4 linked regions of the Homo sapiens genome follow. The protein of the gene in region 4 interacts with the protein of the main gene of each other region in a pairwise test. Each region holds a gene or a part of one and is shown on either strand. Other genes may lie near its edges.

Region 1 (3,676 bases), on a different chromosome or scaffold from region 4:
CGCACACCTGTGGTCCCAGCTCCTTGGGGGCTGAGGTGGGAGGATCACTTGAACCCAGGAGGTGGAGGCTAGTCATAGCGAGCTATGATTGTGCCACTACACTCCAGCCTGGGCGACAGAGCAAGACCCCGTCTCAAAAATAATAATAATAATAATGCAAAGCAAAGTCACCTTCTCACCCAGTGCTTTTTGTTTTAGAAAATATTATTTCTCACAAAAATGCTCTCTATATTAACATGTGATGAATTTATCACTATGGAAGTGAATTAAGTATTTTTAATGTTCTCAGTTTTAATTTATACTATGGTAAAAGATCAAAAGATATAATCCTTCTAAACAAAAGCCCTTTGGGGTCCTGAATAATTTTAAGAATGTAAAGGAATCCCAAGACCCAAAAGCTTGAGAAGGCTGCCCACACGAGGACCGTGAGGGTCACTGAGGGGGCTCAGCACAAACCTGCTCAAATAAGCTGATCTGAGCCTCCTCCAGCCACATGGTGAGCTCAGTGGAGAGCTAGCACCACGTCACTGAGTATTTTGGATCTCCCAGAGACCCCTGTGCTGTGCTAGGCATGTCTCAATAGGTCCCACCCCCAAACTTTCTGAATTCCAAAGAATTTGCCCAGGAGCCCTGGGCCTAGTGCACGAGTGAACCACACATTTGCCACTTGATGGGCACAGGCCCCAATAGATGTTGCCTGACAACCCGTGTTCCCCCTGTCTCTGACAGACCTCACTCCTTCCGGGATCAACCACTTCCCCATTCTCAGTCCCCGTAGTTTCAGAAGGCTCCAGAGGCAGTTGCGTGACCCAGATCCGGATAGAATGATTGGTTTCGAGTTAATCATATGAGCCAGGCAGGATCCAGATCACAGCCAATGATCGCATGTCCCAGTTTCTTGCTGAGAACATTGGGAGAAAAGAGCCCCCCTTTCTCCTAGAGCTACCGAGCTGGTGGGATGGAAGCCCAGAGCATCTGGGGGCACCGCCACTCAGATACAGCTTACCTGAAAGTTAAGCCAACTCAGAACCAAGTGATGGGGATGAATTCCAGATTCTACCATTTGAGCCCTTAAATGCAGCTAGGCCTGGCCTTCTCAGTCACTCGGGCCAAGAAACTTATCTTTTTCTTAAACAAGTTTGAGTTGAGTTTCTCTTGCAGCTGAAAGAGTCCAAATGAATAAACACAGGGAACCAGAACCACCACGCAGATGGTGGGGAGGCCGCTGGGAGGATTTGAGCTGTCCACTAGAGGCATCGCTGAAGCCCACCTGGATCTCTGGAGAGGCCCCTTTTTGCCCACCAGAGACATGGCAGACCCCTGTCCGAACAACACAGATAGATAACGGCACAGAGTTTTCTTTAACTTTATCATTTATAAAGCCATACAATGCATTGCAAAGAAACAAAGCAGCTGTACAGGAGTGGGGACGCGTCAGTGTACAATACATTCATGTCCAGGATAAGGAGCATACACCAGGATTTATACACGGTGGCAGCGGCTATAGGCACGATGATACAAAATATAAAGTATATTTCCATCTATATAAATACACAGCTGGGGTGGGGAAGGATGCTGGGTGATCTTGTTTCCCCCGCAGAGGGCCTGGGAGGCAGGGAGGGTGGTGGGAAGGGATTTCTTACATTTGTTCTCAATGATGGGTCTGAAGGGAGGAGAGAAATGGGGAAACACAGCCTGCACACACTGATGTGCTCTCACACACACGCACAAACAAAACACAGACACAGGAGAGTTTCAAACAGCTTAACACTGATTGGAAAACAAGCTTGGGACATCCCTCTACAGTAACTCCACTGCTGGCAAGAGCCCAGGCGTGGGATATGAACAGAGGTCCTCCAACATTTTGGACATTTGAGGACAGAGGTGCCAAGAGGGACAGATCTGCCCGAGGCCCCCACCCTGCCCCTCTGGGTGAACCACTTCTCACCTGGGCTATCGCTGAGACTCCACCAATTGGTTGGCCTACAGGCCTCACCTCCCGACTCCCCTCACTGCTGGGCGACATTGAATTTGAAGTTCCATTGCCCAGCACCTCCAACCCCGACTCCCAAGTTCCCTAAAGAAATGAGCAAAACACACGCACACACATACATCCACACTTGCACATGCGCACACACGTCCTGTGTTACCACTGGCCAAGGAAACGCGAGTCTCAGGATTCCAGGGCCTGGACCTGGGGTAAAGGGCTGCTCTGGGACTCTGCCCCCCAACCTCTTGGAGGACCCCGAGTGTGGGGGCAGGATTGGGTGTCTGCCTTGACTCACAGGATCTCCCCAGGTCCTAAAGCTGAAAAAAAAAGTGGGAGAAGATCCAGGAGGCAGGGGTGGTGGACAAAAGTAGGAGTGAGACTAAAAAGTGGGAGTGAGACTAGATTTGATCACACTCACCACCCTTCTGTGCCCCCTGGACAGCATGCTCCCCTGGAGCCCCTGCACAGGCTCATCAGAACAAGGCAGAATCTCCTACTCACTAACCTCCTGAGAGCCGTTTATAGGGGGATCACACTTGTCCAGGAGGGCTGCCCCTCCTGCTTTCACACAACCACTGGCCCCACCATCCCTCTCCTGGCCAGTCTCAGAAGACCCAGGGATCCTCAAAAACCAGGGGAGAAGGAATCCTGGCCATTGGTGTCCACAGCTTTCAGAGCTACTGGAGGAGACGCTCAGATGACATGGGTCAAAGGCCTTTCCCAAACTTAGGATGTGATGTATCTGTCCCTTAAGCGCCTGGCTAAATAAGAGAGCCAGAACACCGTGATAGCAGGCTGATCAAACCGCTCACTTCCTCCCTGTTTTCCTTCGCAGGTCCCCTCTCCATTGTTTTCTCGCCCAATCCTTCCCTCTTGCTCCCTTTGGGAAAAAGCCACGTGGAGCTCACTGGGCCCCTCCCCCAGCTGAAGGGACATGACCCTCCTCTGCCCTCTTCCCTCCAGACACCCAGCTGGACAGCTGGTGGCAGCACGGGACTGAACCTGCTGGGGTCTGCGTCGCTGCGATGTCCATGACTCCCTGGCTCTTTGTTGCCCATCTTCTCCCAGACCCTTTCCCATCCCAGCCCATGTTCAAGGCCAGACAGCGCTCTCCTGGCTGACACACAGATTCAACAATAAACAACAGTAAAATAGATTCAGGGAGGGAGAAGACAGAAGAAGATAAACATTTACAAAATAATAATTAGTAAAAGTGCTTGCTTTTAAAGGAAATCTTTGGCAAGAATATACTGCAGTGCGGAGTGTTGTGTGTGCGTAGGTGTGTGCATGGGTGCACAGCCCGCCGTGACACAGAAGGGCTCTGGTGCAGGGCCCAGAGGTGGGGCCACTGTGGGGACTGGGGAACCCTTCCCCATCATTCGCCTTGAAAAGTCACACTCTCAGAAACTGACTCCTTCCGCAGGGATGCTGGGAGGGAGTTACCAGCTTTCTGGCATGAATGGGTCCTCCCGCAGGGGCACACATGGCTCAGGCTGGAGTGGAGGGGCTGGCCATGCATGCAAGGTGGGCTGTGGTGGGTGGTGAGGAAGGGAAAAGCGACCGTGAAAGCTGACCCCAGACTCAGTCCTGGGCCCCAGCCAGGCTGCTTGAAGGGTCTGATACACCGCCCAGCCTCAAGTGTGGACAGAACATCCATGCCAGGAATAGGCTCCTGGGCTCTCCAGT
Region 2 (5,519 bases), on a different chromosome or scaffold from region 4:
TCTGGCAGGGCTGGGGACCTTGGGGCAGGTGGTCTCCCTCCAGAAGAGCCCTGTGTTCAGCCAGCCCTGTCCTCCAGAGCAAGCCCCACAGGTAGCAAGCCCCACAGGTAGCAAAGTCAGGGAGGGTAATGGCTTAGCCCCAGGCTCCCAAGCTGGGCAGAACAGGGCAGGGAGCTGGAGAGGGTTTGGCAGTGGGCCCATGAATCCAGCCTGGGCAAGGCCCTGCTGTGAGGGACCCCTAGGGACCCCTGGGCCTGCCAGGGAGGAAGGGCTGCCCAGAAAAGGTACTGACTGATGCCTCCTCACCATCTTCTGCCTTGGCTGGCACAGGTCCCAAGTGCAGAGGGGGAGCTGGTCAGGCTGGTCAGTCGGGCGGGGGGGCGGGGGGCATGTTTCTGGCCTGCTGTCACCATGGAAATGGCAGTGGCTGCAGGGTGTGTGTGCAAGGGAGGAGGGTGCTGCCACAGAGAGCCCAGCCAGGACCACCATGAAAGCCAGGAGCACCGAGGGCCTCTGGTTGGCTCACAAACATGCCTGGTGCACCAGGCAGAGGGAACAGGTAGGTCTCCGTGTCCAGCCCACAGCCTCCAAGACACAGGGGGAAGGGTGTCCAGAGTCAGCTGCCCCCATAGGGCCTGATCACTGGGCTTCTGGGATCTGCCTGTCTCCCAGGCCGACGCTCAGCTGGGGCCAGAAGGCTCAGAGAAGGGCCCATGGGGACAGAGCACCAGGAAGCCCGTGGGTGCGGAGGTTCCCCACCTGGGGCCAGGCTCTACGGGGCTCTAGGGCGGAGGCACTGTGGTGAGGCGTGGTCAGGCACGCCCTGGTTGGGAGGAGGCCAGAGTGGGGGTGTGGGGGTGCGGTGACTGGCATGACCCCTCAATCTCCCGCCTGACCCCTCGAGGTCAGGCCCTGGGCCCCCAGGCACGCAGCTGGTCCTGGGCGGTGCGGGAGAAGGGACTGGAGTGTCAGCCCCAGCCCGGGGCACAGAGGGCACGCCCACTCCTTCCCCTCCTTCCCTTCCTAACTCCTCACCGCCTCCCCGGCCGCCCCCTGGGTGGAAGTGCTTGGGGTGGACGCCTTAAGCGCGGATCCCTCGGCGCTGGTGCCCGCCGCCCCTTCCCTGCCTGGGAGGCAGACGCAGACCTCCCCACACCCCCTACCAGCAGCTTCTCGAGCTGTTTCTGGAGGTGGCGGCGCCTTCCTTCCTGAGCCCTGCCCTCCACCCAAGGAGCCTTCAGCACCACAGACAGTGTTGGGGCGGGGCGCGGGCGGGGGCGGAGCGGGACATGGAGACCCGGACAGGGCTGGGGGCCGTGCCCGCCGGGAATCTGACTCCGCTCCCGCGGCGCGGCTGTTGCTATGGAAACCGAGCAACAAAGGGAAGCGGGACAGGCGCCGCGCGCGGCGGGGTGGGGGTGGGGTTCTCCCGGAGCCTGCGACCCCTTCCCGCGGCGGAGCGCAGCCTGGGCGCCCAGGGCCGGGAGTGTTGGACCCCTAGGCCCAAGTCACTAGGGCTCCCCGAGAGCCGAGGGCCAGGCTCCCCGCACCCTGCCCGCCGCCCCGGGGACGGCCCGGCCAGGCGGCCCCGACGTCGCCATGGAAACAGCCGGGGCGCGGGCGGCGCCGCGGTCGCCCGGGCGGGCCCCTGTAGACGCCACCTCCGGCGCGAGGGGCCCGGGGGCGCCAGGCCTGGCCCGGCTGCCCCGCACCCGCCACCCCCGGCAGGTGCGCCCCGCCCCCGCGGCGCCCCCAGGCGGCCCCCAGCCCGGGGGACGGGTTATCGAGGCCCCGCCCCGGCCGCGGAGCCAATGGGCGCGCGGACAGCCGGGCAGGCGGGGCTGGGCGCGGGCGGCGGCGGCCCGGAGGAGAACGGGCGGAGGGCGCGGGCCGACCGGGCGCACCGACCATGGCCTCCAAATGCCCCAAGTGCGACAAGACCGTGTACTTCGGTGAGTGCGTGCCCGCTCCCGGCCCGCTCGGTGCATCCCGCCGCCCTTCGCGGCCAGTCCCGCGCCGCAGAGCCGCGGCGTAACTCGGGGTGCGCCCGGCCCCGGCCCCGGACCGAGGATGCGCGTCCCGGAGGCTGGCTGGCCGCGCTGCCCAAGCGGCTAAAGCCAAAGGGTGGGGCTGCGCGAAAGCGGGGGCGGTCACGCCCGAACCCCGAAGCGGCTTGTGGGGGCGGGGCAGGGACCACCCGGGCGGGGCTTGTGGTGCCCCGGGATGAGGCCAGTGTTTGGGGGAGCGCTCGGGGATCCGCGGACGCATCCCGGTTCCTCGGACGGCGCCGGGCGGGGCGGGGCAGGGCGTGGCTGTACGCCCCGGGTGCGTCCCGCGCGCTCCCGTGGGCCTGGGCCCTTTCTCCTGGACCCCCTACACCCGCTTCCCCCGGGAACAAGTGGCCGGGAACAGTGACCCCCAGCTCCCACTCCGGGCTCCGCTGAGCTGGGCTGGGCCAGGTTTGGACTCTGTCGGGATTCAGTCCAAGCGGGGGCGACCTTGGCCTCTGCCTCCTGCTTGTCCCGACGCATTCCCTTGGCGCCAGTTCCCCCAGGAGTTTCACACGGGGGTAGGGTGGGGGCGGGTGTGACACGCGAGTTCCCGCGAACGTGAGAGGGACCTTGTGCTCAAGCAGCCCAGGTGTCCAGGATCCCTGCCTCCTCAAGGTCAGAACAGCCCTGGACAGGATGCAGGTGGTGGCGGGAAGAGGGATGTCTCGCAAGGCGGCCCTCGGTCTAGCCCCTCCGGCAGGCGCGCTCCCCCCGTCTGGGCTTACTCACTCTCTGGGCCTGGGTGCGCCCTTCCTACCCCCTTCCTCCTGGCTGATTCGCTGCCCAGCTTTCTCCAGGGTGGTAAGGTCCCTGCCCACCTACCCACCAGCTGCTGCACGAAGGGGGGCAGACTTAGTGAAGCAGAGAGGAGGGCCGGGACCAACAGGGCGCCTGCCCTGGTCGCCCCATACCCAGAATGCGGCCAGGCTGCAGGGAAGGCCGCCACTGGGCTTCCCCGGCTCACAGGCTGGAGGGGGTTGAGGGGAGGTTGTATTTTGCCCGTCCCAGAGGGGAGGGACCGGATTTGGCCTGGAGTGCTTCTGGCGTGGCTGGGAGCCGAGGGGCTTCCGGCTGCCTCTCCTGGAGCCCGCTCAGCCCTCAGTCTCTGTCCCAGCGAGGGCTGTCTCTGTAAGGCTTAGGGTGGGAGACGGTCCCCAGGGCCCTTCTGCAGTCCAACTGCCCATGACTTTACCCCAGGCCGGGCCAGGCCAGCCTGGGGCTCTCCAGGGTCTCGGCCAACAGTCCTGTGGACAGCCCGGAAAGGCCTGCCTGCCTGGCCCGCCCAGCCTCTCAGCGGAAAACAAAGGCGCTTCAGACCCGGCTGGCTTCTGTCCTGCCTGGGAGGCACTGTGAGGGCGAGGGTCCAGAATCCTGCCCACCCTCACACCAGGCTGCCCCCGCAGCTCATACCTGAGTAGAACCCAGGCTGGGATGTCGGAGCACATTGAGGAGGCCACCCCAGAGCCCATGCAGCCAGGGTGGGCAGCTGGTTTTCTTCTGAGCCATTAGACCCAATCGATTCTGTGTTCCCAACTCGGACCCGTAATGTGTGGCCATTGACCCACCCAGTGGGTCTGAGGGCCAGTTCCCTGCCCCCACTTGGCCCACGTCCCAGAGCTGGCCAGAGCACAGTGCTGGCAGCCCTGGGCTGCAGCTGCCACGGCCGATAGCCACCGAGACTTCCTTGCTGCTGCTGGGACACGCCTGCCCACCGTGCAGCCAGCCCCTGCCTGCCCTGGTGTGTCCCAGCTTCCTTGAGTGGAGTGGTTCTGGTCAGAGGGCTCTAAGCTGGTGCAGCCTTGTGGTTGGGCTGGTGTCCTGGAGGCTGGCCCTGGCCATGCCCAGAGGGTTGTACCAGGGCCACGGAGAGCCAGTATTCACAGCCCTCTACCTAGTAGGCCACCTGGGGGATCCCATCTCACTGCCAGGAGCAGCACCCTTGGGCCTCTCAGAGTGGGCTTCGCCCTAGCCAGATGCCCCTCCCCGATATCTGCCAGACAAAGGGGGCTGGGCCACTTGCTGAGAAAGGGAGCTGGGAGAGCCACTGGTCCTCGGCCACCTGAGGGGCTTGGCCAGATTCTGCCGGGCAGGGTGGGCCCAGCCTGCATGCTCCCTCCCCCCAGGGCCTGCAGCTTGTCCCCTTCCCTTCAGAATTCCGGCTCTGCTGGGCCCTTCCTGCCCCTCCCCACCTCTTCCTGCCTGGCTCCCTAGGGAGGCCCCTGCTTCCATCCACTGGGAAGCAGTCCAGTAGCCCCAGTGTGGGGGTGGGAGGCAGTGGCAGAGGGTCCCGGACCCTCAGCAGCTGCCCTCAGATCTTCCATGCCAGTGGCAGCCAGGGGCATTACGGCGGGGGGAGAGCTCAGGGTTTAGGACGAGGAATCCACAGACAGATGAGGGTCCCGCCTGGAGGACCCACGGGGACGGGGCCTGGCCTTCCCATGAGGGAGCTGGAGGTTCTGGGGCTGCACCTTTGACTCAGCAGCGGGGTGCTGCCAGCCCCATCAGGGCCCAGTTGGTGGGGATCAGGGGCGTGTCAGTGCGAGGCAGGTGTGAGAGGGAGAGCAGCATGTGTTGAAGCAGGTGCACTGCAGAGGCAGGTGTGTGAGTGTAAGAGAAGTGTTTGAGGGAATGACAGGTGGGGGAGATGCATATGTGTGGGGGGAGGCAGGTGTGTGGGGGGAAGCGGGTGTGTGTCTGAGGAAGCGGGTGTGTGTGGGGGGAAGCGGGTGTGTGGAGGCGGGCGTGTGGGGGAGGCGGGTGTGTGTGTGAGAGGAAGGTGTGTGGGAGGAGGCAGATTTGTGGGGGGAGGCGGGCGTGTGGGGGAGGCGGGTGTGAGGCGGGTGTCCGGGAGGCAGGTGTTGGAGCGCGGGCAGGTGTTGGAGCGCGGGCAGGTGTTGGAGCGCGGGCAGGTGTTGGAGCGCGGGCAGGTGTTGGAGCGCGGGCAGGCTCGAGCACAGGCCCCTTCACCGCAGGCACTGAGGGGACTAACAGGGCAGCCCCGGGCCCCTTCTCAAAGGCGGCTCTAGCGGGGTTCCAGGGCTGGGGGCGCTGAGACCCAGAGGGAGAACAGGGCCTGGGGGCGACGGGCTCCTCCGGGTCTCAGAAGGAGGGGCAGGGCCCGCCAGGTGGAAGGAAGGCGCCTGGGAGACCTCCTGAAAGTGGGGACCCCCGGAGCGCGTGGGGGTGGTGGCTGCCAGGTGGGGGCGGAGGGGGTGCGGGGCGCGCCCCGGCCCTGACCCCCCTGCCGCCCCTCCCGCTCAGCCGAGAAGGTGAGCTCCCTGGGGAAGGACTGGCACAAGTTCTGCCTCAAGTGCGAGCGCTGCAGCAAGACGCTGACGCCCGGGGGCCACGCCGAGGTGAGCCCCACTGCGCGGCGCGGGCGGGGGCGGGGGTCGCGACTCCCGCCACCCTCAGGCAGGGTCCTGACCCGCGCCCCTCTGCGCAGCATGACGGGAAGCCGTTCTGCCA
Region 3 (4,270 bases), about 42 Mb from region 4:
CTGGCCATCCCACCTGCCCCCCAGCTCAAGGCTGCCCCCAGCTCGGACCCACCTGAAACCAGCCACTGGCCCCCAGGAGAGACACTGAGGCACCGGACAAGGTCACTGTGGCCCCTGTAGACCTGAGGAGGCGGCGGCAGTGAGGAGTCAGACTGGGAGGGTGCAACCCCAGCCCCCTAGTCTCCACTTACCAGGGCCTGGCACGTGGGGAAGGGCTGCAGGTCCCTCGGCCGAGGCAGCTTGGGGATGAGGTCCTCAGGGTCTACATTCACCTGGGGCAGGAGAGCGCCAGGTCAGCCTTGCCCCCTGTGCCACCCCCCTGGTGTGCCACCCCCACACACCCTCATCTTGCGCTGCCGTGGGCACAGGTACAGGTCAAGGCAGCGCTCGAAGCGTTCCTGGATGAAGCGTCCGTAGGCAGGCACGGCCCGCAGGCTCGGGAACTTGCGTGGCAAAAAGCTCAGCTTCCTCTCGCCTGGCTCCTGCTGTTCCCACGCCAAGCGCTGTGGAGACCAAGACACAGGGGTGGGGAGGGTCACAGGGAAGCATGGGGACAGGGTCCCGGCCCCCAGGATGCAGGCCCACCTCCTCCTCGCTGAGCAGGTATTCAGGGGGTGGGTTGTACGACTCGGCGTGGCCTGGCAGGGCCAGCTTGGGAGCAGGTACGTGCATCTTGTGGCGCCCGAGCACGGCGTTGGGGTCCTCCTGGGCCCACAGGTCATAGAAGCTGGGGGTGGGGTCTCGGGGCCGGCGAGGCTGGATCCAGCCCATCTTGATGGCGTGCACCATGCGAGAGACCTGCATAGACAGCCGGGTCAGGACGGGCAGTGCGGGGCGGTCAGCCCAGGCCAAGCCCCAGGGGCTGTGTGCCCCACCTTCTCCTTCTCCACCAGGGAGGGGATGAAGCTGCGCTTGTCGGCCGGGCGGTTGGTCACCGGGTGGATCATGACGTCCCCGCTGAAGAAGTCGACAGCCGGCTGGGGGAGAAGATGTGGGCGTGTGGGCCAGAGTGGCTGAGGCCCTGCTGGTGCCTCCAGGACCCCCGCCGCCCAGGGGCCAGCCCCTGCCACCTACCTCATAGGGGTTGAAGCCCACATCCCCAAACTGGCCACTCTGCAGCCGCCGCACCAGGGCCACCTGCTCATCCGTCAGTCTCAGGTCCCGCCCTGTCATCGGGTCCTGCACGGTGCGCCTGGAGACCGCCAGTCAGACCCCGCCAGCCCTGCCCCACCCCTCGGGCCCACCCCGGCTGCTGGCCCCACCCCACCAGCCCTCACCAGTAGTCAGGATCGTCCATCTTGTCCAGGAACTGGTCCAGCTCATCCCGGGTCCGCAGGGGCTTGTAGATGCGCCTGCCATCCAGGTCGTAGCCCACGTGGGGGAAGTCATCGTACCACTCCAAGGGCACGTTGCCCACCGTGTTCCGGATGTCCTGCAGCCGGGGGCCACCATGTCGGCATCTGATCCTACAAGGCCCACCCCCGCTTCGGGCCGCCCAGGGGAGCAGGTGAGGGGGTTGCAGGGGGAGTGCAGGCCCAGCCTCAAGTGCCCTGAGGTCACTGGCCCTGACCTACGCCTGTTCCCCAGCCCTGGGGTCTGACGTGGCATGGCGGCCACGCTGCCCCCACCCCCGCCCTCGGAGGCGCCGGAGCTGCACCTTCACATTTTCCACTGAAGTGGTGCCAACCCCAGAGCTCCCCCCTCACTGGATTCCTTGGCCAGGGCTCTGGGCAGCCACAGACAGGGATGACCTCATCACCCACGGGCTCCCTCCCCTGGCAGGGGCCTTAGGCAGAAGTGGGCAGCTATAAGACGGGGACTCGGGGAAGACCCCAACTGACCCATTCCACAGAGAGGCAGAAGCCAAGACCTCTCTGTGGGGGACCCCCCACCGTCTGCCCTCGGCCCCTCCCCAGGCAGAACAGCCACGTTCCTGGACGTACATTCCTGGTTGCAGCCCCTGCCAGCCGCCACCCTCGCTCCTTCCAGCCTGGGGACCGCTGCCCAGGAGGCTGCTTCCTGCAACAGTAGCCACGGGGAGGGGCCCAGGCAAGACAGAGCACAGCTGGGAGCCTGCCGGGCCCCCTGCTGCAGGAGGGACCCCTTGGGCCCTGCCCCCTGCTGAGGGTCCTTCCCTCTCCTCCCCATGGAGATAGGGGGCCATCCCCAAATTGGATAATGGGGGTATGTGTGTGCTTCCTGAGGGGCCTGGTGGCCCTGGAGAGGAACGGGGGAAGGAGGAAGGGGCAAGGAGACCGACGGGGTGAGAGGTCCACACAGCACAAGAACAGGGGACATGGCCAGCTAGCAGAAGGCACAGTCTGTGCCAAGCCTGGAGAGGCAGGTGCAGGACAGACAGGCGGAGAGACTGAGCTCTAGGCCCCTAAATACTCGCCTGTGCCCGCCCCCTGCACACGGCCTGGCACAGGCAGGCGCTGGCGCACATGGGAGGCAAAGACAGACAGGGTGCGGTCAGGCAGCAGGGCCAGGGCGGCTGGGTTAACTCAGTTGTGCCACGGGAGAAAACGGGGTGGTGGGTTCCTCCCCTCTCCCGGGGACGGGGGGCACTGCAGTTTTGGGGCCCTGAGTAACTACAGCCCAGAAGCGACCTCCCAGTTCCTCCGCATCCCCAGAGACGGAACGATGCCCCCAAAGACCAGCCCCGCCCCCCCCACCCCCGCCAAAGCGTGGCCACAGAAGGCCGAGGGACGCGGCGGGCGCTGCTCGAGGAGCCTCCGGGCTGAGAGGGGCGGGGCGTGCGCGGGGGAGGGGCCGGGACGCCGCTATAAAGGCGCAGCTCGGGGCCCCGCTCCGGCCCGGGACGCACATGTGCGCGCGACGCCCGGCAGCTGCCACCGCGGGGCGCAGCCGAGACCCCGCGCCTCGCCCCGGCCGGCCCGCGAGGCCCGCGGCGGCCGCAGGAGGCGGCATGAGCAGCGCGCGACAGAGCTGACGCCGCGCCCCCGCCGGCCCCATGTCCTTCGCCACGCTGCGCCCGGCGCCGCCGGGCCGCTACCTGTACCCCGAGGTGAGCCCGCTGTCGGAGGACGAGGACCGCGGCAGCGACAGCTCGGGCTCCGACGAGAAACCCTGTCGCGTGCACGCGGCGCGCTGCGGCCTCCAGGGCGCCCGGCGGAGGGCGGGGGGCCGGCGGGCCGGGGGCGGGGGGCCAGGGGGCCGGCCAGGCCGTGAGCCCCGGCAGCGGCACACGGCGAACGCGCGCGAGCGAGACCGCACCAACAGCGTGAACACGGCCTTCACGGCGCTGCGCACGCTGATCCCCACCGAGCCCGCCGACCGCAAGCTCTCCAAGATTGAGACGCTGCGCCTGGCCTCCAGCTACATCTCGCACCTGGGCAACGTGCTGCTGGCGGGCGAGGCCTGCGGCGACGGACAGCCCTGCCACTCCGGGCCCGCCTTCTTCCACGCGGCGCGCGCCGGCAGCCCCCCGCCGCCGCCCCCGCCGCCTCCCGCCCGCGACGGCGAGAACACCCAGCCCAAACAGATCTGCACCTTCTGCCTCAGCAACCAGAGAAAGTTGGTGAGCACGGGCCGTGGGGCGCCGAGGGGGGCCTCCAACGCGCCCCTCAGCCCACACCTGCCAGGCAGAGGAGGCGAGGCCACACGGGCAGGGCTCCCCAACAGGGCACAGGCAGGCACACCTGTAACACAGGCCTGCCGGGGGCTGGGGCCTTCTCCTGGGGCTCCTCTCCAGGGCGTCCCTAGGACACTCGGCTCCCAGTGGAGTGTGGAGTCCCCTGCAGGGAGCTGCATGAGGGGTAAGAGCTAGGGATGGCCAAAGGGGCCCACCCAGGGCGGGGAGGCTGGGGAGCTGGACCAGGCCGCTGCAAGCTTCCCTTTTCAGTAAGTTGAAAGGCGGAGTGAAAACAGCTGAGTTCAGAAAGTAAGAGGCTGCAAGGCAAGAGAGGAAGGACCCCGGGTTCTTAGCCCCTGCGGCCCAGCACTGGCTTAAGCCATCTTGGGCACCTGCTGTCCGTCCCCCACCTAGGCCGCACACCAAGACACCAGGTCCTGTAGGGCTGCCCGAGACGTGGGCCATGGGACACGAAGGCAGAGGCTGGCAGGAGATGTGGGGGCTGGGGGTGAGGGCCCCTGCAGGAGACGCTGGCCAGCTGTGATTTACAGCTCCTGCTGTGCTTGGTGGCACCGGAAAAGCAGGGTGAGCAGGGAGAAAATACGGCACGGCTTTTCCCAATCCCCATTTCCTCTCCAGACAGCACGCGCGAGCTCCTGGGGCCTGAACATCTGG
Region 4 (5,581 bases):
TCTGAGAGTGACTTGAAGTGTACAGTAGATGGCGCTGGTGCCATCAGATTTGACACTTGAGAGGGTTCAAAGTCAGAAGGACTGTAAGGTGGAGTCAAACACTAAAGAAAAGGGAAATACATAGCATGAGAAATCTACAGTTTATTATATAAATTTTAAGAAATTATATAATTTACGTCTATCTTAAAAACAATAATACTTACAAATGCTGGGATTGTATGAAAATCAGGTGTTCCCGGAAGCAGATTCTCTTCCTCTGACAAATCAGATACTGGTGTAACAGGTCTGTTTTCAACGTATTTCTTAAAATCAGACTTCCAACTGCAGCTCATTGACATAAGTGCTTCTACAGCTTCAAAATCACTTTTCTCTGCAGTTTTGTTCCAGGAATACATACTCTCTTTTGGCCTTTCAGAAATCATTTCCATTCTTTCCTCCTATAAAAACAAAAGAGGAAAGCTTATAAGCATATTTTTTGTCATCCAAATGACACACAGAAAAATGAGCAAATTTTTTTTTTTTTTTTTTTTACAACTCACACAACTTTCCAAATTAAAATCAGAAATAATTTTCCTCTCACACTTACTATGATACTAAGGAAGTTCAGCTACACTTGTTAGGTAGGTAACCCAAACCTCACAGTAGTGGCAATAAAATCTTCCTCATTTTTTCTGTTAACATTTAGACTTTAACACTGATAAAGCGATATCCGTTCATGGGAGAGAGGCACACCTACTACCATTAAGGGGACTAAGACGAAAATTATCAATGCATTTGTGATCCAAAAGGAGAAGTATTTGGCTAAGAAGAAAAGGAGTATTTTATATAGACTTTCCAGAGTAGCTACCTGCAACTGGAGTCGGGCAAAAAAACTAAGAGTGCGGCAAAAAATTTATCTTCTTAAATATTACAGGTATGGTATGAGGTCTTTTGAGGTACAAATTGCTGATAGAAAAAAAAAATAGCCAAAACCTTCTAATAAAGACAAAATGTAGTAGAGCTCTGGCCTGTTGTTATGGGTCTGACCTTTGGAAAGTCACTTTGCACTTTGGGATAAAAATCAAAAGATAAGGGATCCTCAGGGTATCTTTCAAGTTAAAATTGCATTATTTAAGATCTAAAATTTGATCACTTGATTATGGTAAAGAAAAATCAAGTGATATACATAGAAAAAAATTCTAATGTTTATTTTAATTAACTTTCAACCTCTTCATATTTGTGCTCCCTTTTACTGAATCTATTTGACACAATGGTTTGCCATACATAACTACAACATAGCTAATGCAATATTACTAAAAACTGGATAATCAAAAAATTTAATATTCTACTTGGAATTTGCAAAAACCGACTTTAAAAAGTCAGCATAATCAAAGTAGAATCTATTTTAATTCCTTAAAGAACTGCTTGATGACAAAATAACAGCACAGGTTTTGCACTTATTTGTAGAACTACCTAATGTTTTATAGTAAAGTTCTTTGAACTACGCTAAAAAAAAATGGTACTACTCACCATTTCTCCTATTTTCCATTAAAAGAAAACTGTCCAGACTCGTTTGGTCAAAGTAGAGATTGTGTAAAAATACCAAAAAACATTCTTTACGTTGCAAGGTATTATTCTCAATACTAGTTTTTCAAAAATGCATGATGCCTTCGTGTTGAAATCCTAAGAAAACGAGCCATTGCTCTTGAAATATCGCTAACAATATAATTGCATAATCGCGCCCGCCTTTATGTAAGCTGCAATGGACAGCGCGCGTGTGTGTAACAGCCCCAAGACGCCAATGCAAAAAAAGGAAAAAAGAAAGGCAGGCGGCAGGGAAAGAGAGCGTGAGCTGGGAAGGACAGGAAGGGAAACAGGGAGGGGAGGAAAGGGAGTGGGGCGCGAGGCAGGAAAGGGAAGCGCGGGCGGAGGCGCGGGCGGGGGAGGCAGACGAGGGGCGGGGGCGGACGGCGGGGGAGATCCTAGCTGGCGGAGACCGACGGATGGGGCCGCCCTAACCTCAATGAGGCTCACGGGTGAGTCACTGGGAACATTCCTCGCCGCTCGCACGTCCCCGCGCCCCTGCCCCCGCCATTGGCCGGCCGGCTCGGCGGCCCGAGCCCGGATTGGCTGTGCGGCCCGGGGCGGGGGCGTGGGCGAGGAGGGGGCGAGGCATGTGAACAAAGCGTGATCAGCGGCTGCTCCGGGAGGCGCAGGAAACGTGAACTGGGAATTGCCGCGCCGTCACCTTTCCCCTACTTCCTGAGCTTGCGGGCCCCCGCCCGCGCCCGACCCGGGGGAGGGGCCGCGGGCGCCGCCGCCAACCGCCCGGCCGTGCGCGCCGGGCCCGCGGGGAGGGGCGGGGCTGCGGGCGCCAGGCTCCGGGAGGCGCCCGCCCCTTCCAGCTCCCCGCGAGCCGCCGTTCCCTTAGGAACCGACAGCGGGGCCGGGCCTCGCTCCCGCCCCTGGCGGAGGCCGGGGCTGGGTCACTCGGGGACGAGAAGCTCCCCGGGCGCACCCGCTCCCGGCCCACCCCCGGCCTCCGCCTCAGATGCGGGAGGAGGAGCCAGGTCCCCGCGGAAACCCGGCCGCCGCCCTCCTCCCGCCGGCAGCCCCCGGGAACCCGGCCGAGCCCTCGGCACTTCCCGCCCACGCGGCCCACGGGACCTCAGACCACCCCGTCTCTCCCTGTAGACGCGGCGCCCCCTCCCCGTGGCTTCCGGCAGCTCCAGGCCCCTCCCGCCGCGCGTCTCCACGGGTTCCCAGACGTGCAGCCCCCACAGGCCCCGGCTCCAGACGCGCGGCCCCCGCGTCTCGCGGCCCAGCTCCCCCCGCCCACCTTCCCGCCCCAGCTGCTGGGTCCCGCTTCCCACCCTCCTGCCCCAGAGGCGGCTCCCCGCCTCTTCCAAGGAGTCGTCAGAAGGCGGCCACCTGCCCCTGGGGTAAGAGTCCCCCTCCAGACGTCTGGGGGAGCAACTCGTCCCCCAGGGCTGTCGGCGGGCCCTCGTGTCATCCCCCCGCTCCGACGACAGGCGCCCCTTCCCCCAGCCCCGAGCTATCTGCTGAGCAGCCCCCGTCTTCCAAGCGTGGGTTCAGACCCCCAGGATGGGTAGCCCACTCGCCTCTCCTGTGGACACCCCGCCTCCCGAGTGCTTGCGAGCAGCCCCTTCCTCCCCTGGCTCGCGTTCCTGAGCCAGACCGGGCATCTCTCCTCGGTACCAGGTGAGGGTAGCCCCCTTGTCCCTCCCGCGACTCTCGTTCCACACTGTACCCCAACCTCGCTGCAGGGCAACGGCCCCCTCCCCACTCCTCCCCCGCTCGTCATCCTCCTCCTCACCAGCCCTCTCGGGTCTCCATGCGGAGTTGTCCCTTCCCCTCAGTACATCTAGAGCAAGACCCCTGTCCCTGTCTGAAGATCCCAGCCCCCTGGTTCGACCCCCTCCCGAACACACACGCCCTCACTAATGCCCATAGTCTGCAGGCAGGAAGCCCTTTCCTTCCCCACGACTCCGCTGCAGCCCCAATTCTCAGGCATGGCTGATGTCCGGGGCTCGGGGTTCGCGCCCCCTTTGGCCCCCCAGACAAGACCAGGCGAGGAAGCACAGGGGCATCCCCAAATGACTTACCGCAGTCTGCTGGAGAGAGGCACCGAAGTTGAGCATGGTTGGCTGCTTGGCCGCCGGCGGCAAGCTGACTGGCTGCTAGGCTGCTGGCTGCTTGGCCACAGACGGGCGCACGGAGACACTCGACGCCGCTCCCGCCGCCGCCGCGCTCAGCGCCGTCTGCCCCCTCCCCATTCAGGTAGCCGCTCAGCCTGCCCCGCGCCGCGGGCGGGGGTGGGGGCGGAGCCTGAGGCCGGCCAATCAACGGCAAAGGTGTGTGAGGCGCCGGCCAATGGGCTCGCGGGGCCACGCGTGATCGGCGACTGCCCGGCAGCGTGAAGCTGGTGTCAGTGGAGCGTGTACACAATCCCCGGCAGCGTGTTCCCTCTGCCCTGCCCCGGGGAACTCCAGAGGCCACCTGATTGAGTGACGCCCCCCGCCCCTCGCCCACCCCTCGCCCACTCCTTGCCCCTCGTCCCCCGCCCCTGCCTAGAGAGGCGGTGCCGCGGCCGGGGAGGCGCGGCGACTGCAGCGCGCCCAGGCACTGCGGAGGGCCAGCCCCACGTGGGGGGTGGGGAGGGATGCCCGCTCCGCCCCGTCCCCTCCGCGCCGGGCCTCGTCTCAGCCCGCCACGGAGTGGGCGGGACGCCAGGCAGGCGGGGGACGCGGCGGCTGCCAGCCAAGGGGCCGGAGCCAAGAGATTTGCATTGGAAGCGCCATCCTCTTGCGCGTCTGATGAGGAAGCAGAACCCGGTGACCGACTGAGCTGCATTTCTGAAGCATTTGCTGGGTTTTGCCTCACTAAGCCTCGGGGAGCACTGGGGCGCGGGATGGGGGACCCTGTCACGGAGCCGACACCTGCTCGCGCGCCTCTCCCCCGCTCACGCCGTGCCGCGGGCTCGCCCTCCCCATCTGCAGCGCCCGCAGCGCCTGCCCGCCCCGCCCATCCTTCCTCCTGGGCAACCCAGAGGATGGCGTGAGGACTCCTGGAAGCCCAGAGGACCGGACCAGGGGCGTGGTGGGGAGCCGTAGACCCGAGTTTTTATCCTTCTCTGGCGCCGACACTCGGCTGCGGAATCGAGTTTGAGCTCGGTGTAGCTGAAGTTTAAATTGTAGCTGTTTCAAAGGTAGACCCCACCTCACCCCCACCCCTGGACCAAGACCTCTGGAAGCGTCCTGCCTGGAAGCCGCTTGTGGGGAGGGCTCTCCTAGGGTCTCCAGGCTCCCGCTGGAGCACGCCTGGAGGTGGGTTTGCCGGCCGTTCCCTGAAACTGGCACCACTACCGCCCCACCCACCCACTCCAGCTGGTGGGAGGCAGGCTGGGTTTCTGAAAGGAAGCCGCCCGTGTGCTGCGCCTGGGGGCTGGGGCTAGGCCTTCTGATCAGGAAAGCCCATGGCCCTGCTTTGGCACGGATTTGCCCCCGTTTGGCCGTTTGTGCGTGATCACAGCAGCTGTTGTTGGAGAGGAAGGCAGTGATAACGGGGCTTAAAGCAAATCGGAGATCTTATCCGATTTGGACAGGCTGAATTTAAGGCAAAAATCACTGTCTCTCCTTCGAGCACTCACGTCTCTGTAACTGAATGAAAGGCTGGTAATGCAAATAGCATTTCTATCCCAGTAATCACAGAATGAACACAGGAAGGGAATTAATTCTTTTAGAAACTGCCAATGCTATGCGTATCTTCCGATGGTTTTTTTCTAATGTATCTAAGGCCCAGGCTAGCGAACAACAGCAATAATAATGATAGTAATACTGTTGGCCAGGACCAGAGAGGCCCAGGGCTGCGGGGATGAGGAGGGAATGGCCTCCTGTCACCGCCCCTCCTGAGTCTGCTGGAGAGGCGCCAGCTCAGCAGCCCGGCAGCTCTTCCTGCCTCTCCCCACCCCATGTCCCTGCTTCTGTCTGCGGGGTGTCCCTCCCCACAGGTTTCCTTCCGCCTGGGCTGTCCCATCCTGTTGACCCAGCCTGAGGGCTGGAGCAGTTGGCCCTGGACACTG

Evidence for each region. The genes of interacting proteins can lie anywhere in the genome.
Region 1: the proteins of KLF10 (region 4) and TNS1 interact in a two-hybrid assay, tested with the Homo sapiens proteins (one large-scale study listed by BioGRID and IntAct).
Region 2: the proteins of KLF10 (region 4) and CRIP2 interact in a two-hybrid assay, tested with the Homo sapiens proteins (one large-scale study listed by BioGRID and IntAct).
Region 3: the proteins of KLF10 (region 4) and BOP1 interact in a two-hybrid assay, tested with the Homo sapiens proteins (one large-scale study listed by BioGRID and IntAct).

Annotation. Positions count from the first base shown.
Region 1 is NC_000002.12:217,798,439-217,802,114, forward strand, and holds the end of TNS1 (tensin-1), read right to left. Parts: 3' UTR 1,353-3,676; downstream 1-1,352.
Region 2 is NC_000014.9:105,472,954-105,478,472, forward strand, and holds the start of CRIP2 (cysteine-rich protein 2), read left to right. Parts: upstream 1-1,867; 5' UTR 1,868-1,909; coding exon 1,910-1,952; intron 1,953-2,905; exon of another isoform or gene 2,906-3,789; intron 3,790-4,289; exon of another isoform or gene 4,290-4,648; intron 4,649-5,312; coding exon 5,313-5,407; intron 5,408-5,496; coding exon 5,497-5,519.
Region 3 is NC_000008.11:144,263,640-144,267,909, forward strand, and holds part of BOP1 (ribosome biogenesis protein BOP1), read right to left. Parts: intron 3,542-4,270; coding exon of another isoform or gene 2,975-3,541; exon of another isoform or gene 2,814-2,974; intron 1,433-2,813; coding exon 1,278-1,432; intron 1,193-1,277; coding exon 1,075-1,192; intron 978-1,074; coding exon 876-977; intron 799-875; coding exon 586-798; intron 504-585; coding exon 342-503; intron 273-341; coding exon 192-272; intron 123-191; coding exon 53-122; intron 1-52. Other genes in the region: SCX (basic helix-loop-helix transcription factor scleraxis), read left to right, coding at 2,975-3,541. UniProt on the Homo sapiens protein: Component of the PeBoW complex, which is required for maturation of 28S and 5.8S ribosomal RNAs and formation of the 60S ribosome.
Region 4 is NC_000008.11:102,651,961-102,657,541, forward strand, and holds the start of KLF10 (Krueppel-like factor 10), read right to left. Parts: upstream 3,766-5,581; 5' UTR 3,642-3,765; coding exon 3,606-3,641; intron 1,784-3,605; exon of another isoform or gene 1,513-1,783; coding exon of another isoform or gene 1,510-1,512; intron 438-1,509; coding exon 204-437; intron 102-203; coding exon 1-101.